4 separate regions of the Homo sapiens genome follow, and regions 1, 2 and 3 are each reported to be linked to region 4. Evidence: microRNA targets listed by miRTarBase, many of them from high-throughput screens and not tested one by one. Region 4 holds a microRNA gene; each other region holds the end of a gene's coding sequence.

What was found. Region 4 holds the annotated microRNA hsa-miR-6127 (UGAGGGAGUGGGUGGGAGG, at 4,956-4,974, opposite strand). A microRNA usually pairs through its seed, bases 2 to 8, with sites in the 3' UTR of a target mRNA and lowers its output. Matches are read on the target gene's strand: a 7mer-m8 pairs with bases 2 to 8, a 7mer-A1 pairs with bases 2 to 7 and ends in A, and an 8mer does both.
Region 1: miRTarBase lists ZNF134 as a target of hsa-miR-6127. Seed matches in the 3' UTR shown: 7mer-m8 at 3,236-3,242.
Region 2: miRTarBase lists TPCN2 as a target of hsa-miR-6127. The part of its 3' UTR that is shown has no 7-base or 8-base seed match.
Region 3: the mRNA of DUSP14 is a reported target of hsa-miR-6127. Seed matches in the 3' UTR shown: 7mer-m8 at 4,750-4,756 and 8mer at 4,709-4,716.

What each region holds. Positions count from the first base shown.
Region 1 is chr19:57,618,407-57,625,834 of GRCh38, reverse strand. It overlaps ZNF134 (zinc finger protein 134), which reads right to left. Exons shown (of 3, transcript NM_003435.5): 2 at 6,327-6,423; 3 at 1,111-5,675. The coding sequence starts at 6,366. The coding sequence ends at 4,432. Among named protein-coding and RNA genes, the nearest start is that of ZNF134, 7.9 kb to the right of the region's middle.
Region 2 is chr11:69,086,038-69,093,465 of GRCh38, reverse strand. TPCN2 (two pore segment channel 2) reads right to left here. Exons shown (of 25, transcript NM_139075.4): 23 at 6,862-6,943; 24 at 6,260-6,354; 25 at 2,869-5,591. The coding sequence ends at 5,513. Among named protein-coding and RNA genes, the nearest start is that of MIR3164, 6.6 kb to the right of the region's middle. RefSeq lists a silencer at 4,574-4,713 and enhancers at 6,880-7,379, 7,380-7,428.
Region 3 is chr17:37,510,257-37,517,684 of GRCh38, reverse strand. DUSP14 (dual specificity phosphatase 14) reads right to left here. Exons shown (of 3, transcript NM_007026.4): 2 at 6,921-7,008; 3 at 4,187-5,504. The coding sequence starts at 5,412. The coding sequence ends at 4,816. It overlaps SYNRG (synergin gamma), which reads left to right. Exons shown (of 22, transcript NM_007247.6): 22 at 1-2,878. Among named protein-coding and RNA genes, the nearest start is that of DUSP14, 24 kb to the right of the region's middle. RefSeq lists an enhancer at 4,515-5,028 and a silencer at 4,787-5,177.
Region 4 is chr1:22,628,373-22,635,800 of GRCh38, forward strand. MIR6127 (microRNA 6127) reads right to left here and starts at 4,994; the gene lies at 4,886-4,994.

The DNA of each region.
Region 1 (7,428 bases), not on the chromosome of region 4:
CTTAAATTTATTTCATACATTTTGATATTAAGTAATTTCATTTCTTTCCTTTTCATTAGTCTCTTATTGTGCTTCATCAACCTAATTGTTTGTTGTTCTAATAGTATTTTTTTCAATTTTTACAGTGCTATATAATTTACTGTTTTAAACAAATCTATGCATATGTGGCATATTATCCTCTCTGAATTGCTTACTCTGTAATTTAGACTGAGATCACTATTGTTAATTTTCCCAGGAACAATTTTATTCATTTTCAAATATACTAGGAACTCCATTGCTAATCTCTGTGGTAATTGCTCAATTGTCTTCCACAGCTCTTTAAACCAATCCCAAAAGGCCAGGCACAGTGGCTCATGCCTGTAATCCTGGCACTTTGGGAGGTCAAGGCAGCCGGATCACCTGAGGTCAGAAGTTCAAGACCAGCCTGACCAACATGGAGAAACCCTGTCTCTACTAAAAATACAAAATGAGCCAGGCGTGGTGGTGCATGCCTGTAATCCCAGCTACTCAGGAGGCTGAGGCAGAAGAATCGCTTGAACCCAGGAGGCAGAGGTTGCAGTGAGCTGAGATAGTGCCATGGCACTCCAGCCTGGGCAACAAGAGTGAAACCCCATCTCAAAAACAAAATCCCATTTATGATTATGAAATTCAAAATGATCAAGGCTATTAACATGTTATCCCACACACCAGAACTGTTGTCGAGTTTTCAGTTCACCAATAGGTATTTCCCCTCAAAAATTTGATGCCTTTTACTATTTTATGATTTTTTTTGAGACAGTCTCGCTTTATTGCCCAGGCTAGAGTGCAGTGGCGCAATCTTGGCTCACTGCCACCTCTGTCTCCTGGGTTCAAGCGATTCTCCTGCCTTAGCCTCCTGAGCAGCTGGGACTACAGGTGTGCGCCTCCACACTGAGCTAAAGTCTCCAATTTCATCTAAATTGTCTAAGTCCAATATGGATGAGGCTCTAGGTATAATCCCATCTTGGGGCACAATTCTTCTCTGTGTTGCTGGGGGGTTCGGGGGGGTCTCTGGACATTGTTGGTGAGATCCCAGCCCCAGCAGCATCCAGGTTCTTAACACCATTGAAAGAATTCAGTGACGAGTCACAGTGAAGCAAAGGCAAGCAGCTTTTATTGTGAAGCAAAAGTACACACAAGAGAGAAGTGTGGGAGTGCCCCTGAGAGCAAGTCATGCAAAACAAAGTTTGGGTTTCTAATTGTATGGGTGTTCCTTTAATAGGGGTAATCATTAGGTATTCTGGGAAAAGAGGGGATTTCAGGGACCCCTGATTACCACCCCTCCTCCCTTATTTGGGTTTGCCTGGAAGAGTTACAGACATGTCACCCTGACTGGGGTTCTGGCAGTTTTCTCTTTTGTTTTGGGTTTTCTGTTATCCCACGGTTTCTTTGCCTAGTTCCCGTTTTAGCTGTTGTTTGGGTTTTTCTTTTTTTTTTTCAGCTGCACCAAAACCAGGGTGTTGAGATTTTCCATCCTCCTGTGACCACCCAGTGCTATTCCTGTCTCATTTGGATCTGTAAAACTAGAAAACTAGTTATCTGCTCCCAAACAAAAGGTTGGGAAAGACCTAGGATAATAGTTATATGTATATGCATTGTTTCAAAAGGGGAGGAAATGGAAGGGGGGAAAACAAAAAAAATGGAACCACCAATCCCAAGAAAATCTGAAATCTAGTTTGGCAAATGCCACTGGGAGTCAAGACATGGGAATATCACATGGTTCAGGACTCTGCCCACTGGACTCTCCTCTGCTCTGAGTCATCCTTCCTTTCTCATGAAAGGTAGCAAGGGCTTGCACCTGTTTCCGCAGCCAGTCCCATGTATAGAATATTACAACCTTTAACTTCACACTTTACATGCCTACACCCTTTAACTTCATACTTTCAAGGTCCCTTTAGACCCAAGGTGAGCATTTCCACTGGTATAAAATTTTCAAGAATTTTGTGAGTCTCCTGTACATCACTGAAATTCACAACATTAGAAAAGAGGTTTATGCAGATTATTCCTCCTAGGGAATCCCCTATCTATATTTTTGGCTTTTGCTGAGATGAGTGATAGTTTAAACTTCTTATAAATTGTTTGTATTGAGGGGATCTACAAGTCACATTTAATCTCTTCAAAGAGCTTTTTGTGTGACAGTGTTCTGATGTATGTTTTGATCCCGGTATCAGCAAACATCCTTGGCTATCTCTCTAAAACATCTCTCTCTCTAAAACATCTATCTTTCCTAACAATGAATCTCTTAATTTCAATGGTTTGTTTTTTTTTTCCAATTAAGATGGGCTGAGAATTTCCCAAATCATCAAATCTTAGGTCTTTTCTGTTTCACAGTTCTTCCCTGTATGTATCTCTTTTCCAATATATTTTACTATAATTAGTAAGATATATGGTCACACCTTCAAAACCTCTGCTTAAAAATGTTCTCAGCTAAGTGTCCACATAAAGACTCATGCATCAATATTTGCAGCAGCTTTTTAATATTTAAAAATGGGGGTGGAGTACAGACATCAATTAAGATAAATGGATAAACTGTGGTATATCCATACAGAATATGACTCAGTAATTTTAAAATGGACTGTTCATACATACCATGGACAAATTTCAAATTATGTTGCATGAAAGACAGCATGCAAAATTAACACTTTATAGGCAGACTTACATAAAATTCTAGAAAAGACAAATTTACCTACAGTGAAAACTACTCAGTGGTTGCCTAGGGATTCTGGGGGAAGGCGAGCACTGAGAGAAAGGTTAAGGGCCTCAGGTTAACTTTGGGGGTAACAGATATGTCCAATACCACTGATAGGGTGATAGTTTCAAGTGTGTGTGTGTGTGTGTGTGTGTGTGTGTGTGTGTGTATCAAGACTTAACTCGTACACTTTAAATATGTGCAATATATTGCATGTTGATTACACCTCAGTGAACCTATAAAAAGTTATCCCATTTAAAAATCTGGATCTCCCACTTCTATTGGAAACTGGACAACTGGACATCACTAAGAGTGACTCTACCTCACTATGGTGACTCTTATCACTCCAAATATCTTGGGAAGACAATCTCTTCCTCAGTAGTAAGAAAAACTGGCAAACAATGAGGACCATTGCCAAAAGAGTCACCAGAAACTCCAGCTGGTCACAAAAGCTACTTCCTTGGACCACACCTCTTTACTCCCAGGGTTACCGCCTGTGCCGCAAAGACATTAGGTAAAGAGCCCAGGGAGGGAGAGGAATCTAGAAAAACTACATTCGTTGCTGCACCAGTGACCTTGACCTAACAGTAACATGGCCCTGGAGATCCTGAGATTTCTGGATACCCTGATCCCATTCAGCCTTAGTGCCTGGACTGTCTGTGGATGTGTTTTTACAATGGGCACTTCCCCTCTAGTTTGCCACAATCTCCCCAATCCCAATTACTCACACTCAATATTTATCAATTTTGTTTCCCTACTGGATGCTTTAGATCTTACCAACAGTGGCCTGTGAAACAGATTCAGGCCTTCAGGGAATATGGCCACTCAGCAGGTCCTGAGGAACAGCTTTCCCTCAACAGTGTTGGGGAACATGGGACACATGCTGCAAACAAGACACCCAATCCATGCTGTTTCAAAACACTGCAGGCTGTCACAGCAGCAGCACCCTCCTCAAGGTGAAATATGGGCTCTCAAATAACTCTAAAATCCAGACAAATCAGGTCTACACAAGATCTTAATTCTTACTTAACAAGCTTTGTCAGCTATGGAAGTTAACATCAAAACTGGACTAAGAACTGTTCTCCCTCAACCCACTGTCCCATTTGAGGCAAAGTTGGAGGCACCGCACAAAGGCTGTCTTCAGTTTGGCAGAGCCTGTTTTCAATCCACCCCAGACCATAAGAAGAAGCCCCAAGATTAAATGTGGCTTAAACTGTAAAGCCTTTATTATCACAAACCAGAGCAACATGAGGCAAGTACTTTCCCAGGCCAGGTGACTTGGAGGCTGGAAAAACTTGATTACAAGTATGTGAGACCAAGAATATCCATGAAGAAAGTAAACTTTTTGTATAAGCCACCAGCAGATACAGCTCAGACCCTCTTGGCTAAAAATGGGTCATATCCATACCTATACCTGTCATACAGAAGGGAATGAGGACCCCCAATGAACTCAGGCATTTCATGATTTTCTCCAGGGACTGGACAATACAAAACCCTGCCTTCCCCAATGCTGGGGTATCTTAGCTGGTAGAGTTAAGATGGTTTCGGCCACATGGATTGACAGTGACATAACTCTGGCAAAAAACCTGAGCAAGTCAGAAAGTGCAACATATCCCTAGAAGGTTCCCACGTACCTGGCACCATAAGGTATCTCCTTTGTGTCAATGTTCAGATACATGAAATTCAACATCTGATTGATGAGTCCTGTTGTATTCAAAGCACTCCTAAAGCCTGCCTGCAGTGTGAACTTTCTGGTGCCGATTGAGGTGGGAGCTTAAGCTGTAGGCCTTCCCACATTCACTGCACTCATATGGCCTTTCTCCAGTGTGAACTCTTTGGTGTCGAACAAGGTGGGAGGTTCTGATAAAGTCTTTCCCACATTTACTGCACACAAAAGGCCTTTCACCAGTGTGAACCCTCTGGTGTGCAATATAGTCAGAACTTCGACTAAAGAATTTCCCGCATTCAATGCACTCAAACGGCTTTGACTCAGTGTGAATTCGCTGATGTTTAATGAGGGTGTATTTGTGGCCAAAGGATTTCCCACAATCACTGCAATCATAAGGATTTTCTCCAGTGTGAATACTCTCATGCTGAACAAGTGTAGATTTGTGTCTGAAGACTTTCCCACAATCACTGCACTTATAAGGCCTTGCTCCATTGTGAACTCTCTGGTGTACAATTAGATTGGAGTGATGGCTAAAATATTTCCCACATTCATTGCACTTATAAGGCATTTCTCCAGTGTGGATTCTCTTGTGCTGAGTAAGGTTGTCTTTTCGACTGAAGGTTTTTCCACATTCGCTGCATTCATAAGGCCTTTCTCCAGTATGGATTCTCTGATGCTGGACAAGTGTAGCTTTGCGGCTGAAGGCTTTCCCACATTCGCTGCACTCATAAGGCTTCTCTCCACTATGAATTCTCTGGTGCTGGACAAGTGTGTCTTTGCGGCTGAAAGCTTTCCCACATTCACTGCACTTGTAATGCATTTGTTCACCATGAAATGCATCCCCACTCTCAGTGCTCCTGTGTGTCTTCCTCTTACTGTGGATGGCCTTTTGTTGGCAGCCACCCAAAGTAGCCTGGAAGTTTTTCTGCTCCTCCTTACACGTAAAGGGCTTCTCTGACGGATGAGGTTCTTTGCTAACTGTGCAGTTCTTCACAATTGAGGCCTCACTTTTATCCCTTCTTAAGGGTTGCTCTATACTGTAACACTTCTGGTACTGATGAAGGTTTGCACTGAACCAGAATTGTCTCCCACATGCCCCACATGTGTGAAGTTTCAGTCCATGGTGTGTACCCTGGTGTTCATCCAGGTGCAAAATATCTTTCAAGATGGGGCCACATATGTCACAAGGGAGAGCCGTCTGTGCGGGCAAACCTGCCTTGGAAGTATTAACATGTGACACTGCTATAGAAATGCTCTGTTCAGAAGATGACTCTTCATCCTTCACTTCATGCCAACAACCTGAAGGCAGAAAAATACTATTGATGTACATGCTGACTTTGGTGGGTGGGGCAACTACATCACAAATATGTGTCTGCTGTACCCAGGACTGAGTACCTAAGTTTCCTGGTGGAACAGAGCTAGGATCAGGTTGAAAAAAGGGCTGCTGTACAGTACTGGAATCTAAGAGTCACAGAATGGAGATGGCCTCACAAGAAACAAAGACACGAGGATGGGGTGTAGTACAAGGTCTCCAACTTAATCCTCTGCAATGACTTTTAGCAGGACCTTGGCTGACTGTGGGTGACAGGTGACTCCTATGCGAAATGTGAGTACAGGCCCAGGAAAATGTGATTAAAAATAAGTAACGTGTTCAGGGACTATTTACAGATATGCACACATCTTATGACACAATAGTGTAAGTGTAGTACAATATTGGAAAGCATCGCAGAGAGAGCTATTGCTCTACTAGAGCCCCTCTGGTAGAGAATGGGAGAAGACAGCCCTGGGTCAGAAGTCAGATTAGAAATGACAAGAGTGTACAGAATGGGGATAAAAAGGTAGAAATAAGTTAGGGCCTCTGGCCTTGGCACTTGTGATGGGCACAACATAGGTTTCCGGAACTACAGGAACCCAGCCCTGAGGTTATGGCGTCCCTCAGCTCCCACTCACCAGGGCCTGTCCAAGCCCCTCCTGCTGTGACTAGAGTCATGCCCTCTCAGGCAGCCAGAGTTCTCTCTCTTGTTACAATTCAACAACCACAGAGGATCTGGAAGATACAAAGCATAGGGGAAAGGTGAAACAGGCTGAGAGCACTAGCCAGAGTAGCCCACCCATGCAAAATTGCAAGAAAACAAATGCTACAAAATGAACCTCAGAAAATTGTCCTGCAGGAACAGTGCAGTGGGCCCACAAGTGGTGACCATGATGACTGAAATTGAGGACACAGGCAGACTCAAGGAAATTACAATTAGAGGAAGCGGGTGGAGCCTGGAGTCCAGAGGTGTCATGAGTGTGGACAGTCACCTGGCCAGGGAGAGGCCAAGCAGAATTCACTGGGTCACCTTAGGACCCCTGACCTCCAAACCCTTCCTGGCAAGGCTTCAGGGCAGCAGGAGTTGAGGAACACAGGGAAGAGAGGGGCCAATGCATCTAGCTGAGCCTAGGCACCCAGGGGACCTATGTGAGGGAATCAGAGAAGAGAGCAGTACCCATGCTCTAGCTATGGAAAGGAAAGAGCAACCCCTAGGGCAAAAAGGAAGAGTAGGACCCAGCCCAGAAAAATGGGATACTGGGGCCTTACCCAGGGAGACTATAAATGCGAAGCACAGAAGCCATTATTTCATAATAGAAGAGTCTCTGAGCCTCATCCAGCAGCTCCCATTCCTCCTAAGAGAAGTAAACAAATAAATCCTTGAAGGTCACATAGCCCTGTGTGAGGTGGACAACTGAGCTTAAGGACAGCCTCTCTCTCCAGGACTCCTTGTCACATCTAACTCAAATGAGATAACAGGCCCTGGTGTGATTGGTGCCTGTTCTCGACTCATATTCCATTAATCATTTTGTCCAGCTCAGAACAGGCAAGTGGACAGATAAAACACCATGGGCCTGGTATGTAGGACCCAACCCTTCTCCTATCAGCCAGCTCCCTGGGGATCAACAGATTATTCCTCATACACAAACCTGAGCTAAGCATTCTTTCAGAAACCCTCCATACCAAAGCTCTGGGCTCATGAATTCACACTCCATCTCCATGTGCACATCACCCTTTTGG
Region 2 (7,428 bases), not on the chromosome of region 4:
TGTATGCGTGCCTACATGGTATGTTGTTTAACCTTGCTTTTGAATTTTACATGAATAATACCGTGCCGTGTGGAGACTTCTGGAACTTGTTCACCCAACATTATGTTTCTAAGATTCTTCCAGGTAGCTCTTTGCAGCTGGAGTTCATTCATGTTCACGGCCGTGTAATACTCCACTGTCACCAAGCTGCAGCGTACCTGTCATTCTGTTGAGGACGTTTCAGCTGGCAGATGTGTTGCTAGTACTGATACTGCTCTTAGGATCACTCTGCCGACCGTCTTCCAGTGCACACGGGCAGCAGTTTCTCTTGTGAGTGTATCTAGCAGAGAATTACCAAGGTATGTCCTATTCAATTGCAAGAAATGACACCAAACAATTTTCCAAAGAGGTTGTTTCAGCTTAGCTTGACTCTTCAGAATAAACATGTAAGTACTAACAATTAAGATGGTCCAACCTCTTCCATTTTGACCATGGAGTGAGTGAAATGTTGTGTTTCAGTTTCATTTTGCATATTCCTAATAACTAGTAAGACGGAGCAACTTTTGACATAGCTATGGAACCCGGGTGTTTGCTTTTCTGTGAAAAGCCCAACTTTCTACTGCTTTGTCTTTTTCTTCCTAATTTGTAGGTACTCTTTATGTGGTCTGGATATAAGTTCTTAGTTGTTCTCAGTTACCAAAATCTTCTCCCAGTGTGTGGCTTGCCTATTTTATGGCCTTTTTTAAAGAAAGAAGTTCTTAATTTAAATATATTGAGTTCATCTTCTAAACGTTCTAAAACTTGCTTTTCACACTTAAGCCCGCCTCCAGTCGGTATGTACTTTTGTGTTAGGTGTGAAACAGGGAACTTATTTCTTTCTTTTCCCACCTGGGCTGGAATTTCTGGCAGCATTTATTAAATAACAATCCCTTCCCTGCGGGTTTGCTGCCATCCGTCGCAGTTCCGCATTTGTGCAGGGCTCCCGGGCTCTCTCCCCTTAGCCGATCCGCCCCTTGCGCCGGTGTGCGGGGCTCCCGGGCTCTCTCCCCTTAGTAGATTCGCCCTTGCGCCGGTGTGCGGGGCTCCCGGGCTCTCTCCCCTTAGCCGATTAGCTCCTGCACCAGGACCACACTGCTGTGGCTGCTGTCCCAGCAATGTAAGTCAGGAATAATGGAGCAGCAATTCCCTCAACTGGATTCTCCCACAGAAAGGATTTTTGCTCTTGTTTTTGTACTTTCATGTTAATTTTTCAATCAACTTATCAAATTTTGTGGGAAAAAAATGGCATTATGTTTAGAATTATAATGAATGTATGGATGAAATTGGAGAAGGCTGACATTTTTACAATATCAATTCTTTTTGACCATGAAGATAGAAAAACTGTGGTGGCCAGAATTCCAAGATGACCCCAGTGATCCTTACCCTTACATAATCTCCTCCCGTGAATAAGTCACTCCCGGAATTGGGATATGTTAGGTGGCACACAGGACTTTTAAGGATGGGCAGTTGTCCTGGTGGGTCTGACCTAATCAGGTGAAACTGTAAACCACACAGGCTTTTCCTAGAGATTCAAAGGGTGAGTGGGAGTCAATGTGAGGCAGCTTCTTTGTTGCTGACTTTGAAGATGGAGGGGACCCTATGGCAAGGAATGTGGGTGGCCTCTAGTCCCTAAGAGCAGCCCCTGGCTGACAGCCAGCAGGAAACGGACATCAGCCCAACACCTGCAAGCAACTGCATTTGGCCAACAACCCAAGTGAGTATGGGAGCAGACTCTTCCCCGGAGCTCCCAGAAGGAACCCAGCCCACTGACACCCCAATTTCTGCTGAACGGAGGACCTACCAAGCCGTGCCTGGATGTCTGACCTGCAGCTTGGAGCTAAGAAATGAGGTTGTGATAAGCTACCAAGTATGTGGGGACTTGTTACACAGCAACAGAAAACTACATAGTCTCAATTTACTTGTATCTACAGTCATGGGCTTTAATGAAGTTTTATAGTTTTCTGTATATAGGCCTTGAATATCTTTCCTTCCATTTATTTTTAGAAACTTTAAGAATTTTTAATCTTATTTAAATATCTTTTAAAAAATGAATATAACTGAATCCTTGAATATAATTTATAAGCTTATTGCTAGTGTCTAGAAAAGCAATTGATTTCAGTATATAATCTCAGGGCAGGCCAGGTGCAGTGACTCACACCTGTAATCTCAGCACTTTGGGAGGCCAAGGTGGGAGGATCACTTGAGCCTAGGAATTCAAGAATAGCCTGGGCAACATAGAGATACTCCATCTCTACAAGAAATAAAACAATTAGCCAGACCTGGTGGCATGTGCCTGTAGTTACAGCTACTCAGGAGGCCAAGGTAGGAGGACTGCTTGAGCCCACAAGTTGGAGGCTGCAGTGAGCCATGATCACACCACTGCACTCCAGCCTGGGTAACAGAGCAAGACCCTAAAATAAATAAATGAATAAGTAATAAAGTAAAAACTTTTTAAATCTCATAGCAAACAACTGTGCTGAATTCTTTTTTTTTTTTTTTTTTTTTTTTGAGACGGAGTCTCGCTCTGTCGCCCAGGCTGGACTGCGGACTGCAGTGGCGCAATCTCGGCTCACTGCAAGCTCCGCTTCCCGGGTTCACGCCATTCTCCTGCCTCAGCCTCCCCAGTAGCTGGGACTACAGGCGCCCGCCACTGCGCCCGGCTAATTTTTTGTATTTTTAGTAGAGACGGGGTTTCACCTTGTTAGCCAGGATGGTCTCGATCTCCTGACCTCATGATCCACCCGCCTCGGCCTCCCAAAGTGCTGGGTGAATTCTTACTATTCTTAATAATTTTGGCTTTTCTATGTAGACATCATATTTGAGAATAAAGCATTACGTTTCTTCTATTGCTGTTTTTATGTACTTACATATTTATTGCATCTTAATGAGGCAGGACCCTCAGCAGCATGTAGATTTTGCTGTTGCTGATTGTAAAGGCCCTGACAGTGACAACTTCCATTTGGAAAGCTGTTTGCTGAAGGTTTTGGCAGCAGGGCGTCCACACAAGAGGGGTACACAGTGTGGGAGTCAAAGCCCCAGTCGGATGAGCAGGGCATCTCTGTGGGGAGTGGGTGGCAGTGATGGGAGGCTGGGGACATGCAGGAAAACTGACCCAATAATAGATTAAGGAGAATGAGAACCATTCCCAGAAAGGGCCTTACAGCTATGGAAAGAGAGAAAAACTGGAACGTACCCTGTGGTGCTGGGCTAAAATCGGAGGTATTAGTATCATTCCCAGCTGTGAATAGATGAGACAGAGAGAGAGATGGAAGTACGTGCACATATCCTCTAGCTCTGTCCACTAAGAGCTCCCGGGTGCAGCAATCTGCAACAGCCAGGAGCACGCCTCGCACCCACATCCTGGTTCCTGATGCTACTCTCCATTCAAAAGAACAGGTCTTCTTAGAGCTGCAGCTCACTCCAATAAATGAAAGAGAAAGGGGCAGGCAAGTATAAAATAAGGCTTGAACATCTTTTTGCACCAGAAAGTAAAGAAACAGCTAAAGAACTGTAGGTACATAACAAAAAAAACACAAAAGGCAGAAGAAGGGGCTCCCACGGGCCAAACAAGCAGGACCTGAGCCTGAGAGTAAATGTCATAACAGACCACAGCCCTGAATACAAGAAGGGACCAGGATCCACACAGGTGGGAGCAAGGAAGGAAGGAAAAAGTAAAGGCAGTTTGACAGGGATGGGATATTGGCATCGCTTCACACTACCTCCCCACTCATTCATTACAAAGGGGTCGTTCACTGGGCAGTGGAGAAGCTGACCAGGGCCACCTTCACCAAGCAACAAGAGAGAACACCAGCAGGAGGCTAACTGCATTGGGCAGCCCCTGCCAGGAGGCAGTGTCCATCCTGTGACACTCCTAGACGAAACGCAGACCCAGAACCTACCACAAGGAAACGTCACATGAACACAACCTGGGAGCCATGGGCTTATCTCCAGAAGTGCCAAGGTCGTCTAAGCCCAGGGAGACGGAGCCACCGTCCAGGCGGATTAAGTCGCCATGACCACAAAGCCACGTGCGACTCACTCCTGACATGAATGCGGGTTGGACGCCGTCCCAAAGCACAGAGGGTGCAGGGCCAGAACGGCAACCACTCAAGTGACTCAGAAGGAAGCTTCTCTTTACTGTGCTTACAACTTTTCTCCAAGTTTGCGGTGGTTTCCATATTGTTATTGTTATTGTTATTGTTATTATTCAACACGAGTAAAAAGAAACTCATGACCTTCTCCTTGGACTCGCTCCTCTCCCCAATCTCGATACCGACTGCACTGTTGTTCGGGTCGCCCCCTCCCCCACCATCCCACAGGGGCTATGGCGTGGGCTCAGCACCTCTGAAGGAAAAGCAGATGAAAGAACTTGTGCCTCCCAGGCGAGAATGCACAGTGCAGGGGCAACCCTGGCAGGGCCCATCCCTTCCTGGTCCCGCTGAGCTCGGGCACAGACCGGGCACCAGGCTCGGTGTGGAGTGTGATGGGGAGTGGTGTCCCCGGAGTTGTTTCTGGGAGTTGCTGGGTCCACCTTACCTTAAATGTAGTCAACCAAGTCCCATCCCACCACTAGATGGCACCCAAACCTCAGCAGAAAGGGGGCGTGGGTTGGCCCCTGAAGTGAGAAAACCATTGGTCAATCTGGACCTGGCGTGCTTCAGGTGACAACAAGGCTTTCCACACACTGCTCGCTCGCCCCACCTCCCCACCCCAGGCCCCCTGCCACACACCTGAAGACACAGGAAATAAGGTCACCCATTGGCTTATACATGCCTTTGAGCAAAACAGAAAAGGTGCCCCTCACTGCAGGTAGACAGCCCCCCGCCAGGATACACCTCACAGCCATGTGCCCTTGTGCAATGCACAACCCAAGCAACCTTACTCAACAACCCTACTCCAGAGAAGCAGGACTAGAACTGTGCTGAAGTGAAGAATGACAATCCCATTCTTTGCAAGACTTATTGATGAAAATAACTGGCAATCAGAACCCTAAAGAAACACACCCAGTCACACTCATACAAGCCATGAAATAATAAAACACAGTCAAGGTTCTCTCCATGTCAAACCACCAGCATCCCCACCTGAATGCCCCGGAAGTCTGACGGTTAACCTGTGCAGGCCCTGGTCAGGCCTGTGGTCCCCAAGGGCTGCCGGCAGCAAAGGCACCACGGAAGCTGCAGGGGACAGGGGAGGCCGCTGCTTCTTGCATTTTTGTCTGAAAGGTCCCTGTGGAGTCGACGAGGGAATTCTCACTGAAGCAGCTATAAAAGAAAGCGGAGGGCACGGCGCCTCCCTGAAGCACCAGCAGCTGTTCTGTAGATGGTTGTTGGGCCACACGCAAAGGACTTGGTTCCTGTCCCCAGCTTAGTGGTCCGTCAGAGGAAAGGTCTCTTCCTGCCTGGCTGGCCACAGCATGGCCGCCTCTTCCATGACGGGCACCTGTGTAGGCCAGCCTCTCTCTCCTGCCGCCCCTGCTGGGACGGCAGCCCGGACGTCACCTGCACAGCCACAGGTGCGGGTGCTGGCTCAGCCTCTCTGTGAGCTCATCCTCCCCGGGCTCCTCCAGAATATCCCTGTGGAATTGAGGAAAGATGCACACAGGGGCCTCTAAAGGAGGGAGACCCTGGCCTGCCCACAAGAACAAGGGAGCAGAGCTTAGCAACACATGCGAAGTGAGTGTCACAGGGACACAGAGACACGGGGACTCAGATGAGCCTCAGGATGGATGTAGCCACTAGAAATATCTACACGGCATTCTTAAAAGCCCAGGGGCCACGTCTTCCCACTGGCTGGCAGGACCGCAGGGCTTGGCTGCAGCAACTCGGCAGCCCCTGGTGGAAGGCACAGAGGCCCCACAGCAGGGCTGCCTCTGGGTGGTCACTTTTCTGGACTAGCAGAGGAACCATCTCAAAGCTGCCAGGAGAAGAGATGGGTGCGTTTTCCTCAGGTCCCTTGTTTACATCCAACAGGATCCAATGGACCCTGAAGGATGGTGCCTTAAATATGCCCAATCCAAGAGCAGGAGAGCAGGACAAAGGCTATGACGCCAGTGGCAGGAAGAAGAAGCCGCCCCGATCCCGGCTCTGAGCTGCTCTCCTAGAGCACAGGACCAAAGCCAGATAACCGGGCGGAGGGGGAGGACAGTCATCAGGGCCTGCCCGCCGCCTCAACCCCTCCACCCCCCAGCTCTTGGCTTCCCATCCCAGGGGGCCAGACAGAAGCGCCTTCCCCACCCACACACCTGAACAGGAGCTCCACAGTCATCTGGTAGGTGGCCTCTGGGGTCCCAGCAAGGGGCTGCAGGTGGCTGCGGGGGTCCCACTTGTGAAGGAAGTTCTGGCAAGCAGGAGGAGTGGCCAGTGAGTGTGGGCCCCGAATGAAAGCAGCCTTGCCCCATCCCCGGCCCCTCCAGGGTCAGCCACAGGGCACCCGCTGAGGGGGCTGAGCCATTCACCCTGGACACCCAGGCACAGGCCCCACGAGGCTGCTGGCTCCTCCTGGAGCCAATGTCCAAGTCCCTCCTTCAGCCCGACCTGGGGGCCTGAGAATCCCCACAGCCCAGATGTCAGGAGCACCCCCCAAGGCCCCAGCAGCCCAGATGTCAGGAGCACCCCCCAAGGCCCCAGCAGCCCAGATGTCAGGAGCACTCCCCAAGGCCCCAGCAGCCAGGGCGGGCAGCACTGAGCCCCACGGGAGGGGCTCAGCCTCACTCAGGACCCGCCTAACCCAGCACGACTCTCCCATCAAAGTTCCAGGCAGGCCCGGCCGGTGGCCTCAGGCCCATCGAGAGTGAATTAGAAACAAACGACCATGGAGAACAGCCTGGGTGGGGATCTCTGATACCTCCAGAATCAGGGCCAGAAACAGGTTGACCCAGATGACAGACGACACCAGCCACCACAATACAAAATAGATCTTGGACCACCTGCGGAGGACAGAGACCCACCCTGTGAACCACGATGAGCAAAGCAAGAGCACTCGATACAAACACCACTGCTGCGTGGCCAGGACAGCTCTCGGGCAGCCGGCCCACACACACCATGATGCAGAGCGCGTTACTATTTCCATCTCAGAAACAACCCAACTGAGGCCTAGAAACGTGCAACAAGCTGCCGAGGTAGCTAAGCCAGCAGGAGGCGGTGCTGGGATTAAAACCCAGGACCATCAGCTGGGGCCAGTCTGAGCTCTTCAAGCTCAGAGCTGAACTATCTCGTTCACTCAGCCTTCCCGGGGCTCCCCCACCCCCATGGAATTCCTCAGAAGCCCCAAACACACCAACGACCTCCAGGAGGTGTAAACCCAGAGTCACTGGCCACCATCCTGAGAGTCACGATGTGGCTATGCAGGGGGCAGGGACAAGGCAAGCCAGGATGCCACGCTGGCCGACTTCCCTGTCAAGGCCCGAGTCCC
Region 3 (7,428 bases), not on the chromosome of region 4:
TTTTATTTTTAAACTGAAAAAGTTGGTCTTGTCTATATAATTGCTGCTTTTACATAATTTATTTTCCCCTCTCAGGACAAATTCTGTCTTGCTCCATCTTACAGCTTTTCCATGTTCTCCAAGAAAGGTGTGGAACATTTTCATTAAACAGCTGTTGCTGAGGCTTCTGCTTGACCTTCTGCGTGCCCGAATGCACAGAGAGGCACCGAGGAGAGAAAGGCTTTTCTCACTCGCTCCCGATGATACCGTCTCTGGCCATTCCTGACTGAGGCAGCTCACTCTGAATGGGCACCTTTGGAGCTTTTGCCCACCACAAGGCTAGTGGGGTGTTTCTAACAACACAAGTGGGACAGCTTTTGGCAGGCTTTTCCTGAGGCCTCGGCGCTTCCATCCTGGACAGCACCACTTCCACATGGAGCTGGAATGCAAGCAGGCTGCTAATTGGCCTTAAAAATTCTTTGTTTTTTTTTGAGATGGAGTTTCACTCTTGTTGCCCAGGCTTGAGTGCAATGGCACAATCTCAGCTCAGTGCAACCTCCGCCTCCCGGGTTCAAGCGATTCTCCTGCCTCAGCCTCGTGAGTAGCTGGGATTACAGGCGTGCACCACCACGCCCAGCTAATTTTGTATTTTTAGTAGAGGCAAGGTTTCTCCATGTTGGCCAGGCTTGAACTCCGGACCTCAGGCGATCCGCCCGCCTCAGCCTCCCAAAGTACCGGGATTACAGGCGTGAGCCACTGCGCCTGGCCTAAATTTCATAACAGAACCATGACAGCAGAATCTACCTTTGCAATAAGAATGTTTCCCAGGAGTTAGAGACCAGCCCTGGGCATGATGGTAAAGACCCCAGCTAATTATACAAAAAATAATTAGCCGGGTAGGTGGAGTGCATCTGTGGACATTCGTGGTCCCAGCTACTAGGTAAGCTGAGGCGGGAGATCACAAGTCCAGGAGTTTGAGGCTGCACGTGACAGCGTAGGTGATGACAGAGCGAGACACTGTCTCTTAAAAAAAAAAAAAAAAAAGTTTCCCAGTTTGAATTTGTATTGCTGAAGCATTTTTTTGAAATGCTATATAGATGCCTGTCATGTCACAGTGGCCCAGTATCAACATTTTAAAAAGCTCACTTGGTAGCTGGGCTGGTTTCTATTCCTGAGAAATTCCAGAATGCCTCAGATAAAATTCCTTAGTATAATCCCCATTTTCCTTACCAAGGATGGTAGGCTTAGTCACTCCTTGGGAGGTGCCACAGGAAAATTCAGCAGATGTCAACAGAAAAAAAGCCTTTGCTATGAAAAGTATTCACTACCTTTCATATCTCTTGAATACTTGAAATGTTTAATTAGATGCCACCAATAGGGATCCAAGGAGTGTGGGACACGGTTGCGCTGCTTTTCTTTATAAACGTTTATTAAAATGGCTCAACGCTGCATTCAGCTTCACCTCAGCTCTTCTTGTCAGCCAGGAGCCCCGTGTCCTTGGAAACTGTAGCCAAGGTTACTTATTTCCATACTGTGCATTGTGTCAGCCCGCTTCACCCCACTGCTTGAATGGCCATTAATAAGCACTTTTCTTTTTTTGGTGGGATGTTTTGCCTTTAAAATTTTTATGGCTTAGTGTGTAATTTAATTTTTGTCTGGACATGCTTGAGATAGAAGAGGTACTGGATATATGAGGATATTTTCCATGCTTTATTTTTCCTGTGGCTACTAGTTAGCATTCCATAGGGGTTGTGAATTTTTAATTATTTGAATATTTTGTGTACATATACATATTTGAAGGGTTTTGGGGGGGTCTTATTTGTTTAAAGGTGTCTTCTGTTTGCCTATTTCAAGTGTACTTCAGCTTTGCAAAGATTATAGGGCTGTATGTTACAGAAATAGGAAATGCTGGCCCTGTACTGGGGACCACTACAAAAATTCCCTTTAGCCGGGCGTGGTGGCTCACGCCTGTAATCCCCAGCACTTTGGGAGGCCGAGCCGGGTGGATCACCCGAGGTCAGGAGTTCAAGACCAGCCTGGCCAACATGGCGAGACCCTGTCTCTACTAAAAATACAAAAATTAGCTGGGCATGGTGGCAGGTGCCTGTAATCCGAGCTACTCGGGAGGCTGAGGCAGGAGAATTGCTTGAACCAGAGAGGCGGAGGTTGCAGTGAGCCGAGATCGCGCCACTGCACTCCAGCCTGGGCAACAAGAGCGAAACTCTGTCTCAAAAATAAAAAATTCCCTTTAACACCTTCAAGGTCAAATGCCTGCCTTTGTGAACAGTTAATAAACTGACATTTTCAGACATTTGCCATTCAGAAGGGAGCATTGTAGCCTGCTGTAGACCATTCCAGCAAATGTCAGAATGCAGGGCAAGATGTGTGTCGACTATGTTTTTTATGTTTAAGTTACTTACTTATTTCTTCAGGTAAGTGTGTACCAAATAACAATACTGAAAAGCCCTCCCCTTGCCAGGCCGAGGAAATAAAGCTTAAGTGAAACAGCTCTTGGGGGAAAAATGCCACTTTACAAATACTTTTCTAACAAAATAGCATTATAATGAAGTTTTTACTTAATTCCATTATTTATATGTTGACGTGAATGTAAGTGGTTAAAAAGTATTCATGTGGGACATCTCATTACTTTGTAGCTGTGGCTTTATTAACCAGTGAATGCTGTGGCCCTTAGCGAAATGCGTTGTCTTCTGCGTGATGTGGAATTCGCGCCTGTATTTTAAAAGATGGTGTGGTTTCTCCCTTGTTTGTATTTTAATAAACAACTGCTCTAATTGATGTGTTTAGACATTATAAAGCTTTACCTTTAAAATATTTTCAGGGTCTGTTCTGAAATCACCCCTTGTTAAACTTCTCTAACCAAAATACAAGTGTAGAAGAATGTCAGGCTACTAAGCCTTTTCTTGGTCTTGTCTTTGTTGGGTTGATTTCACATAGATGCAAGTCACTAGGATGAACAGGGGCCCATGCGCTTAAGATTACAAAGGTGTTCAGCTTCCCACGTGCGAGGAACTCTTAGTTACAGCCCCGTAGTGCTGCTTGCCAGGAATTCTACAGGTAATTTTCATTAATTACCAAGAACATCTGTCACCAGGTGTCTTCTCGCCCTAGGACAATGGTTATTTGGGTGCTCTTATTCAGAAACTCCCAGACTCAAAGCTGAGCCTCCTACTAAAGCAGCCAGAGCCTCCCTGGATTTTTTTTTTTTTTTTTTTTTTTTGATCTTATAGCATTTGTTGTTTCCTCTGATTTCCCATAGAAACTATTAATAATTTTTTTCATTTTAGTTTTTCTAGAGAATAATGATGCATGTTTATAACAGTGGGCAGCCACGGGTATAAAGCAATAAAAGGTAGAATTTAGATGGGAAAAAACCATTGCCACAAACCAGGTAAAATGTGGAGTATATTTGTCTAAATATGTAGCTACTGGCCTATGTATGGCTTCCTGCCAAAACTGACCCAAAAAATCTAGAAAACTATTCCTCTGGTGAGCAAGCTACAACCTTCCTGATAAATGAAGCCAAAGAGCAGTGCCGCAGCGGGTTCCCATTGCACGGGCAGACGCCCAGGATGCCCTCCATGCAGAAGAAAGGCATGCCCTAGGACAGTGGTTACTTGGGGGCACGTGGAAAGTGCCCAGGAGTGTCCCAGGAGTGGGACAGGGGCGAGCTCATTCACCTTCTACCATGTATCTGATGATGATGAGCGGTGCTGCCCGTTTTATCAGGAGCAGTGAACTGGGTGACAGACAGTCCCAAAGTTAAACAAAGGCAGCCATTGTTTGTTTTTGTTACTTGCTTATCGCTCATACTGAGGTTTGGTTTAGGGCATTTTCGTATGTGGTAATAATAGTCAAGCAGAGGCACCTTTTATTGAAAACCAGTTTCTCTGATGGAGGACACGCTGCTTCGGGGCGCTCCACTAACCAAGAGGAAACCAAAACCAGCACCCCTGATCAGAGCGTGCACTATCAATCATCTCCCACCGGCCCAGCACCGGGGACGGTGTGTCTGCCTGTCCACCAGGATGTGACGCGCCGACAAGACTCTGCTGGGATGTGTATTTTAAGTAATGTTCCCAACTGGCACAGGAGCCACATTTCAGCAGTTAGTTAGTTAGTTACTGGAGAGCACCTTTTTCCCATCATCGACACACACACACCTTGAAATTATTAGTAAAAATTCTAATATGTTAAGCATATAGATTTATTAAAAATAATGCTAATATAATCCTGGGCACATGGATTCCAAGAGAGATTTTGCAGCAGATTTCATTATAGTTACTTAACAGCTAAATAATAAGGGTGTATTTAACTTACTTACAGAGTCACTAAATAATGGAGGGGAAAGGAAAGAGTAGGGCTAATCCAGTAGAGACTGAAGCTGGTTATCAACCTTCCCTAAGCATCTGTCTGGTCCGCAGCCTGGGGCAAAGCTTGTCTCTAAAGGGTTAATGAGGCCCCAAAGTGATTTTTGCACTGAGCTCCTCCTGCACCTACCAAGGTGCCAAAGGCATGAGATTCAGAAGAGAGCAGAACCAGTTTATTAAACTGTTCAAATTGGTAAAAATGATTAAAAGCTAAAGATTTCCATAAACACTATTCCAAAATGTTAATTTTAAAAATGTGACTAGCAATGTATGCATTCCCTTTATGTCCCCTCCCTCCCTATCTCTTAAAATAAATTTGAACACCCAGTGTAAAAAACACTTGAGGGAGAACCAGAAGTCAGCCATTTGAGAAGAGAGTGGAGAGGGAGCAGACGGCGGGGAGCAGATGCCGGCCCCGCTCGGGCTGCTGACGCAGGCTTCAGTGGCACTAAATCCCCCAGTAAGGCATCAGGTGTCGGGACTCCTTCTCATAGACGTCGGGAACTATGCCATAAGGTGTCTGTACCATTTTAACTGTCGACTTCCCAAAGAGCTGGCGCTCGTAGTCTATCAGTTGCCTCCAGAAGCCTACGTTGGGCCTGATGACAGGTCGCCGGGCTTTCACCCAGTTGTACGCCTCCAGCAGGCACACGTTGTGGAATTTCATCAGGTACGCGATACACAGCGTGGCTGAGCGGCTCACCCCTGCAGCACAGTGCACCAAGGTGGCCCCGTGCTTCCTGCTCACACTGTGGATCTTGTCAGCCACGGTGTCAAAGTACAGTCCAATGGGGGCATGCGGCATGTCAGCCAGAGGCACTTTAACATACTCAAATTGGGGCCAGTTGAAATTAGGGATCTCAATGGTAGCATTAACAATGCAGGTGATGCCACGAGCCTGGAGGAGGTGCCGATTGGAGGCCACACTGCCTCTGCCCAGGAATAGAGAGGAGGTGATTTGAGCAATGCCTCCTATGTCTCCCTCGGAAATCATCCGAGGGGCCATGAGAGTCCTTGGTAGCGTGCTGTGACCTCTGGAGCTCATGAAGACGCCAGCAGTCACACTTGCATCGTTGGCGGCAAGACCAGAGTGTTTTATTTTCCTCCACCAAGGAATCCAAAATTAGAGTCTCCTTCCTGCAAAATACAGGTATGTGTCAGTACTTTAAATGCTACTGATTCATCACAGCCTTCTGTCACATTTGTCAAATGGGAAGATTAGAGGGTTTTTTTTTAAATAATACAGTACAATCTTTCAAGGATACAGACAAATCATTTTCTATCAATTAACAGTTGGGAAAAGTCACCTAAGACACAAACATGTGAAATCAATGTAAAATTCAGCTCTCTGGTGATTGTCCAAAAAAAAAAAAAAAAAAGTGGGGTGGGGGGGGGGTGGCTGGGCATGGTGGCTCATACATGTAATCCCAGCACTTTGGGAGGCTGAGGTGGGAGGATTGCTTAAGCCCAGGAGTTCAAGACCAGAAGACCAGCCTGGGCAACACAGTGAGACCCCATCTCTACAAAAAAACTTTTTATTTTTTATTTTTTATTTTTTTTTAATTAGCTGGGTGTGGTAGTGCATGCCTGTAGTCCCAGCTACTCAGGAGACTGAGGTGGGCAGATCACTTGAGCCTGGGAGGTCGAGGCTGCAGTGAGCTGTGATTGCACCACCACCACACTGCAACCTGGGCAACAGGGAGACCCAGCTTCTAAAAAAAAAAAAAAAAAAGGAAAGGCCAGGTGAGGTAGCTCATGCCTGTAATCCCAGTACTTTGGGAGGCTGAGGCGGGTGGATCACCTGAGGTCAGGAGTTCGAGACCAGCCTGGCCAACATTGGGAAACCCTGTCTCTACTAAAAATACAAAAATTAGCTGAGCATGGTGGCGAGCACCTGTAATCCCAGCTACTCGGGAGGCTGAGGCAAGAGACACGCTTGAACCTGGGAGGCGGAGGTTGCAACTAGCTGAGATCGTGCCACTATACTCCAGCCTGGGTGACAGACTCTGTCTCAAAACAAAAACAAAAACCCAAACCAAAAACTATTTCCTATCATTTCGTGACAATGTAAACACAGTAGCATTTCCATGGAAATAATCCCAGGCAATTTGAAGGCCATGGTCTTCAAAGTTCATTCCTGTAAGTTAAATGAGCATTTTACCTGACCTGACCTTGGGTGTGGCTAAATAACTTCACCTTAATTCTGAGCTCCACGATGAAGCCCACTGGCTTTTAACGTCTGAACGTCACTATCCTCTCATTATTCCAGTGTTTGCTATTAAATGTCAATATATACATTTACATATATATTGATATATATTATATATATATTGACATTTAATAAGAGCAGAAAAGGAAGTTCTCAGTTTCCTGAGATCTTAGATACATCCGTTCCTCTCACCAAAAAAAAAAATCACAATGCTTTATCACCTGTGCCCAGTGGCAAGTGCGCCTGCCCACACACACCCAGGGGATCGTCGGGAAGCCTGCAGTGATTTCAGTCAGACAAGAGCCTCCCCGGGTTCAACAGGCAGGCAGTGGTGGGGTACTCACTTCCTCAAGAGTCCAGTGTGCGCTGCCTGGGTCCGGATCCAGAAAGTCCTAAGTGAGCAGTGCTGGTGACAGTGGATACAAATCAAATCTGCGGGAAGACAAGGAGGCAAGGACACAGCCAATCAGGAAGTTCCAAAGAATTCCTCACCGACTTTCACTACGACCTCAGGTTTGACTGAAATAGAGCCAGGAAGCGGAAGGTGCACTGAACATTCGCAGGTGTGCATTTAAAGGCTGCACCAGTAAGAAACACCGGCCTAAATCTCAGCTTTTTGTTACTGACACATAACCCGCGGCGTGACAAATAAGAGTTTTGACAATAACACAGACAAATCTCATCCTCTTGAGAGGAGGAGACTCAGAGACCACAACCTATCCGCGAAATGTCCGGCACTGCTGCCTCCTCGGTGGGCTATGAGGACACAACACGGACTCGAGTCTCTTCCATGCACCGTTAGCCAGCCCTGCAGTGGGAAGGCCTGGGCGGCACCGCGGTGGGAGGACGGAC
Region 4 (7,428 bases):
AATTCCAGCTCTTTGGGAGGCCAAGGCGGGCGGATCAAGAGATCAAGAGATGGAGACCATCCTGGCCAACGTGGTGAAACCCTGTCCCTACTGAAAAAAACAAAAATTAGCCTGGCATGGTGGCGCGCACCTGTAGTCCCAGCTACTCGGGAGGCTGAGGTAAAAGAATTGCTTAAACCTGGGAGGCAGAGCTTGCAATGAGCTGAGATCGTGCCACTGCACTCCAGTCTGGTGACAGAGCAAGACTTCATCTAAAAAAAAAAAAATAGCCAGGTGTCGTGGTGTAAGCCTGTAATCCCAGCTGCTTGGGAGGCTGAAGCACCAGAATCACTTGATCCCAGAAGGCAGAGGTTGCAGTGAGCCGAGACCACGCCACTGCACTCCAGCCTGGGCCACAGAGAGAGACTCCGTGCCCAAATATAAATAAATAAATAAATAAATAACTATTCAATTTACCGGCTGTGTGACCTTGTGTGAGTCACTTACCCTCTCTGAACCTCAGTTACCTCATCTGTAAAAGGGACTGTCACCATGCCACCTCCCCGGGGATTCTGATGATGAAGTGAGGTCGTGTATTAAGCACCCAGTAGGAAGTCCAGCATTCAGTAGGGCTCACAAGGAAGAGCCTATTAGCATCTTGCAAACATACCACGGTGAAGCATCAACCTCAAAACACCCCAGAGAGGACAAGGCTTACCCTGTGGAAAGAATGACTACAGGAGGAATTTCAGGTCCTGTGATGGGCAGATGAGGGAGATCATTTGCACTCCAGGCTCTCCCTGGCCACTCTCTTGTGACCCTCATGCCTATGTGAGCTCCTTGGAAGCTAGCATCTCCCAGCAACCTGGACGTCAGGCCCAGCCCTCTCAAGGTGGAGGTAATACCTCCTTGTTGGCTCCCACAGCCCGATCTGTTTGTTTTCCAAACTCTTAGTCCTCTTAATCTTTTTACATCTTACCTGCCTGGTGGCTTCCGGCTATATTTGCCTGTGGGGAATGTCTCCAGAGCAGCTCCACCCAGTTCCCCTCCGGGCTGGGCTGCCTCCCTCACAGGCATTCAGGGTGTTGGCTTCCAGCTGGGGGGCTTTATTTCTTCCTATTTTTCTTCACTCTCCCCTGCCAATAAATCTTTTCTGTCTTCTTTTTTTTTTTTTTTTTTTTTTTCCAAATTTTCTTTCATGCACCGGCCCTCTGAGTGCCAGGTGAGAGTAGGAGGAGGTAAAACATTGTGCTAAGAGCCTACTGTGTGCCAGAGACCAGCCGCACTACTGTCTGGAAGCCTGGCATAGTTTGAGGTCATCATTCCCAGTTTATAGGTGAGGTGCTAGAGCCCCAGACACAGGAGGTTACTCGTGCAAGATCACACAGCCAAAGAGAGACACACACTGAATTTGAACACATGCTGCCTCCATCTCCGCAACAAATGATCTGTTGTTTACAATCCCCTCTGCGTTTCATAAAATAATCCCAAGAAGTGCTTTTATCTGCCAAGAAAAGTAAAGAATAAAGAGTGTGCACAGACAACACATGGCAGTTCTCTCACACAACAGCTCCCTCCCCAATTCCAAATGCCTCCCCCAACCACTTGCTAACAAAACCCTGATCTTATTGGGTGGTGGGGACAAAGAATGGAAGGATAGACCCCAAAAGGCCCAGAAGGAGGGTTTTGCAAGAAAGGCGAGACTAAGACAATCTCCATAATAAAGAACAGAGAGCAGGAGAGTCAGGGAGAAGGAGGAACAGTGGCTCTGGGCAGAGGGGCCGGGAGATTTTTTTTTTTGCTGGAGACAGGAAGTTGAAGACAGAGGTCTGGAGGAGTGGATGGAAAAGAGCAAAGAGCACTGGTGTCAACTCTATGCCTCCTTCCTGGTGTTCAAATGTACAGCAGAGAATTGAGTGTATCTGTTCACAGGGCTGGGTGGGGCAGAGGACTTGCACCAGAATGTTCTTAGCAGCTTTATTCATCATAGCCCAAACTCTGTACCAACAGAAGGGACAAACAAAGTGTGATACTGCATATGCATACGATGGAATAGCACTCAGCAATACCACGCAAACTGACACACGTAACACAGATGCATCTCACCGGCATGCTCTTCAAAAGAAGCCAGACACAAAAGAGCACAGGCCGCATGATTCCATTGACATGAAGTTCAAGAACAGGCAGAAGGCACCAATGGTGAGGGAGAGCAGAACACCGGTTACTTTGCGGGTGGAGGGGAGCACTGTTGACTTGGAGGGTCACGGCCGCCTCGCTGGGGAGATGGATACTCTGCACTCTGATCTGAGTGGTGGTAGAGGGCCTGTGCGTGCAGGTGTAAGCTACTGAGCAGTGTGCTTGAGATGTGCACATTTTACTCTGTGCAAATTATGCCTCATTTTTTTTAAAAGAAATATACAAGCACCTTAGAGTCGCATTATATACACACTTGCCTATCTCCACTTCGCCTAATAGGACTCAGAGAGAGAATCACAATTTAAGTAAGGCAGGGGATATTGGTTTTTTTTTTTTTTGAGACGGAGTTTCACTCTTGTCGCCCAAGCTGAAGTGCAATGGCCTGATCTTGGTTCACTGCAACCTCCACCTCCTGGGTTCAAGCAATTCTCCTGCCTCAGCCTCCCGAGTAGCAGGGATTACAGGCATGTGCCACTAGGCCAACTAATTTTATACTTTTAGTAGAGACAGAGTTTATCCATGTTTGTCAGGCTGGACTCAAACTCCCGGCCTCAGTTGATCCACCCTCCTCGACCTCCCAAAGTGCTGGGATTACAGGCGTGAGCCACTGCTCCCAGCCAGGGGATACTGTCTTCTAAGAGCCTATTTCTGGAGGGACCGTGGCTGGGAGAGTTCTGCTGTCCCCAAGTCTGCCTCCGCTCCTGTGAACCCCTCATGATCTAAACACCTCACCTCCAAGGGTGGCTCCAGTCTCCAAAGATTCAATTCCTTTGTGTGTGAGTGGTGGGGGAATTGGTTAACCTTAACCAACTGGTACTCAACTGAAGAAAAAGAAATCTGTTCTACTATTGGAGCCAAAACTGACAGCAAAAGACTATTGTGAAACGGTAATACAGTCTTTCACGTGGCGCTGTTTGAAGAATTTTTCCACCATTTACAATGGTGATACTCACCATTTACAATGTTTGCCTCGTATGCCGATTTTGCAACACAACCCTTGAATGGGATGTGACTGCCATAAAGAATTCAAGTCATTTAAAAATTATTTTTTGGTTATTTATTTGACCTTTGATCCCACTCTGAGACTGAACCTCATGGATCATAACTGTGCAAGCATGGCTAGGAATTTCCTCTCTTCCCCACATCTCCTGCCTCCCGTCTAGGAGTCTGGGCTCTGGAGAAATGGAAGAATATGCCCTTCCTCTCCGCCTGAAGGTGTCCCTGTTGTGACATGCACAGGGCCATTGCTGACCCTTTTATTTCTCACACTAATGATATGCGCATTAGTATCGATGTCTTTTATTTCTTGGGAAGTGTTTATACTCTTGCAACAGCCTGATAAGTAAAATCATCCAACACTTGGAAATAAGGCAAATAGATAACCGGTGTCCTTTCAAAGTCAAATGAGAGCTGTATCTAACAAACCCTGCTAAGGGTCATCTGACACTCTAGGGGAATGTCACTTGGCTTGACTTATTATTTACTATTGATTAGAGCCCAGATTCAGTAAAGATAGCTGTTAACTGGTAGAAAACTGTTAAGTTGCAAATTATTTTTGTCTAGTAGAGATGCAAATGATTTCTTTTCAATAGAGAAGATAGCCCCAACATGATGATTTTATTGCCCTATAGAACACTAACCAGTTTTGTATCTAATTTAGCAATTTTATGAATATTCCAGAATTCTTGTTGTTTTAACTGACTCTCTCTGTCTCCATATATAGGTATACATATATATTTTTTTCCATATCCATTGAACTAGCTTTGTCACCCAGCTGGTTCCTCCATTAACAACCTACAAGAGGACACTGACACATTCCCACACTGTATTTCTATAGGAACTGGGTATTCAATATTTTGAAAACTAGACTTTGAGAAGCTTTTCACAGTATCTGATTTTTCCTCTTGCCAACTCTTGCCCCTGTCTGTGTGACCCGGGCAAGTCTTTTTTTGTCTCTGGTCCTTTGTGTCTTCAGAGTAAAATAGGGCACGCAGGGCTGGCGTTTCTGCCTCGGGCATGTCATGTTTCTAACTCCTCTGGCAGGCAAGCAGGGCTGACGCAATGCAGTCAAAGAAGATGGATACTGGGCCGGGCGCGGTGGCTCACACCTGTAATCCTAGCACTTTGGGAGGCCGAGATGGGCAGATCACCTGAGGTCAGGGGTTTGAGACCAGCCTGGGCAACATGGCAAAACCCCGTCCCTACTAAAAATACAAAAATTAGCCGGGCGTGGTGGTGCACACACGCCTGTAATCCCAGCTACTTGGAAGGCTGAGGCAGGAGAATCTCTTGAACCCAGGAGGCAGAGGTTGCAGTGAGCTGAGATCGAGCCACTGCACTCCAGCCTGGGCAACAAAGTGAGACTGTCTCAAAAAAAAAAAAAAAAAAAGAAGAAGAAGAAGAAGAAGAAGATGGATACTGGGCTGGGCGCGGTGGCTCACGCCTGTAATCCCAGCACTTTGGGAGGCCGAGATGGACAGATCACCTGAGGTCAGGAGTTTGAGACCAGCCTGGGCAACATGGCAAAACCCCGTCTCTACTAAAAATACAAAAATTAGCTGGGCATGGTGGTGCATGCGTGCCTGTAATCCCAGCTACTTGGAAGGCTGAGGCAGGAGAATCTCTTGAACCCAGGAGGCAGAGGTTGCAGTGAGCTGAGATCCAGCCACTACACTCCCACCTGGGCAAAAAAATGAGACTCTGTCTCAAAAGAAGAAGAAGGAGGAGGAGGAGGAGGAGACTGGAAGGGATGTTAGAGGCCATTTGGGGCAGCCTTCCCACCTCCCACCCACTCCCTCATCTTGGTAGATGGAGAAAGTGGGGTTCAGAAAGATGAGATAACTTGCCCAGGGTCACACTGTGAGTTAGGTATGGGCTGAGCAGATGAGATTCCAGCTCCACGAACTTTCTGAATCCAGGGAGCATGGGAGGGGCTGTCAGGGGGAGCTCTGGGCCCCCACCCTTCAAGCCAGTATCCCCATTTTTATCTGTTTGACATACATCAGATGCCACACAAGATTGCAAATGAAAAAGAAGTCCCCAAAGCTCAAAAACCCTGGCTCTAGACCATCCTTCATCTGCCCACTTCAACAGCCTTCCCTTATCTCCTCCCTCCTCCTCCTCTTTTCCTCCTCCTGCCTCTGGCAAAATTTTCAGAAAACAAACAAACAAACAAAAACATGCTCATGAGAAGAAGCAGACAGATGTGGTCAGCCCAGGCCTGAACACATTGGTCTCCAGTCTGGGAGAGACAGAGCCTCTCTATCTAAAGAAAAGCATTCTCAGGGTCCAAGCTGACAATGATGCAGTGTGCCGTGCTGACAGGTAATGAGCATCCCATCAGTTAAGGTGAGTAAGGCTAGATGATCTGTTCAAACACTAGCAGCAATTGTCTCTAGATGGTAGAATTCACAGGCTTTTGTTGCTGGGTTTTGTTTTTTGTTTTTTTTTGAGATGGTGTTACAGGATCTTTGGGGTGTCATTTTCTGGCCGGAAACCTCTGTGGCTGGTGGCACCTTTGCCCAAGTTTTGCTCAGGCCCACTGGGCTTGTTTCACTCACTCCTCCTGGCAGGCAGCACTCAGCTCACATTACCAGCCTGGGTTCCACATCTGCCCAGGGCAAGTCAGGCATGGAACAGTGAAGGGTGTGTGAGTGAACATGGGGTCTGGCCACTGCACACAGTCAGACATGCCGGCTGCTGCAGCGGGGTGAGCAGCTCCAGGTGCCAGCATGGGCGCCAGCTCTCTGAGAGGTTGTGGCTAGACCAAGTACACCACAAGCAGCTTCCACAGCTGGCACCGGGGAACACGGTGGCACCCAGAAGCTTCGAGATGCCAGGAACCACAGGGCCCCGAAAAGGGAGTCACAGCTCCAGCTTGGGGAGCTCCCAGGTCTGGGTTCCCCAGAGGGCCGCAGCTCTTCTTTCCTTCCCTTCACCTGCATCATGGCAAGCAAGGGGCATGTTTCAGCCTTGTTTGTGTTACAGCTCTTTCAGCCCCACCATTTGATGGGTCCCAAGTTCTTATCCTGCAACCAGGAAGAATGAGGTATGCAGACAAGTGGGGAGTGAGCAAGACGAAGAGGAGCTTTACTGAGCGATAGAACAGCTCAGCCTCCTGCAGAGCCTCCCTCAGGGGGCAGCTCCTTTCCACAGCCAGGGTGTCCTGATGAGTGTTCAGCTGCTAGCAGAGAGGAGACCCTGGAATGGGAAGCTCCTCTCTGCAGGCAGGTCATCCTGTCGACTTTCCAGCTCTCAGAAGAGGGAAGACCCTGGAATGGGAAGCTCCTTTCTGCAGGCAAGTTGTTCTGCCATCTCTGCAGCTCTCAGCAGAGAGGAGGCCCTGGAGCGGGTAGCTCCTCTCGGCAGCTGGTCATCCAATGTCTGCCCAGCTCTGGCTGAGCCTGAAGCTTTCATGAGCCTCAGAGAGGAGGAAGTGCATACTGATTGGTCCATGGGTGGCTATAGGCAAGCCCAGAAAATACACCATAAGTTCCCACTCTGGTGTGTGGGACTGGCAGCCTGGCCCCCAGCCTTGAGGCCCTCCCTGGCTTGAAGGTAGGGCCTCACCAGGGACCCATCCCCTTCCACCCAGGAGCCTGTCTGTCTCCTGCTGCTGTTCATGGTGCCCAGGCTGTTCATGCCAAGGAGCGTCTGCAGGCCAGTGCCGAGCTGCCCTCAGTTTCCCCTTGGCTTTCCTTCCATGCTAGTCAGTGCCCAAAGTCCAGAGGGGGCCAAGGCAGCAGGGGTCTAGTGTGTCAGCACTGCCCCAAGCATGCCCACACCCAGCCAGGCTGCGACAGCACCCAGGCTCAGCACCAACTTTGCTCTAAGATCAGAGTGGGCGCCAAGAGGAGGGAGAAGCCAGGCAGTGGGAGCAGACACTTCTGAGCCTGAAGGGTGGGGCGGGGGGCCTTCCCGGGCCCCCAAGATTGCAGGGATGCCTGGGTCCACAGCTGCAGTTTAGGCAGCTGCAGCTGCATGGGGGATGGCGGGGGCCCCCACCTGCTCCATGAAGCAGGATCAGCTGTGGTTTGGCAGCTGCAGTGGTTCCCAGGAGGGCGGGGTTCCCACTGTCCCCAGCTCCCACTGGCTACATGGAGCATGCAGCCCTGGCCGTGCCTCCCTGCTGCAGCCAGTGTGATGACAGCAGCCATTCCAGACGGCCCGCCATTGCCATCTCTTTTTTTTTTTTTTTTTTTTGAGATGGGGTCTTGTTCTGTCTCCCAGGCAGGAGTGCAGTGGTAAGATCAA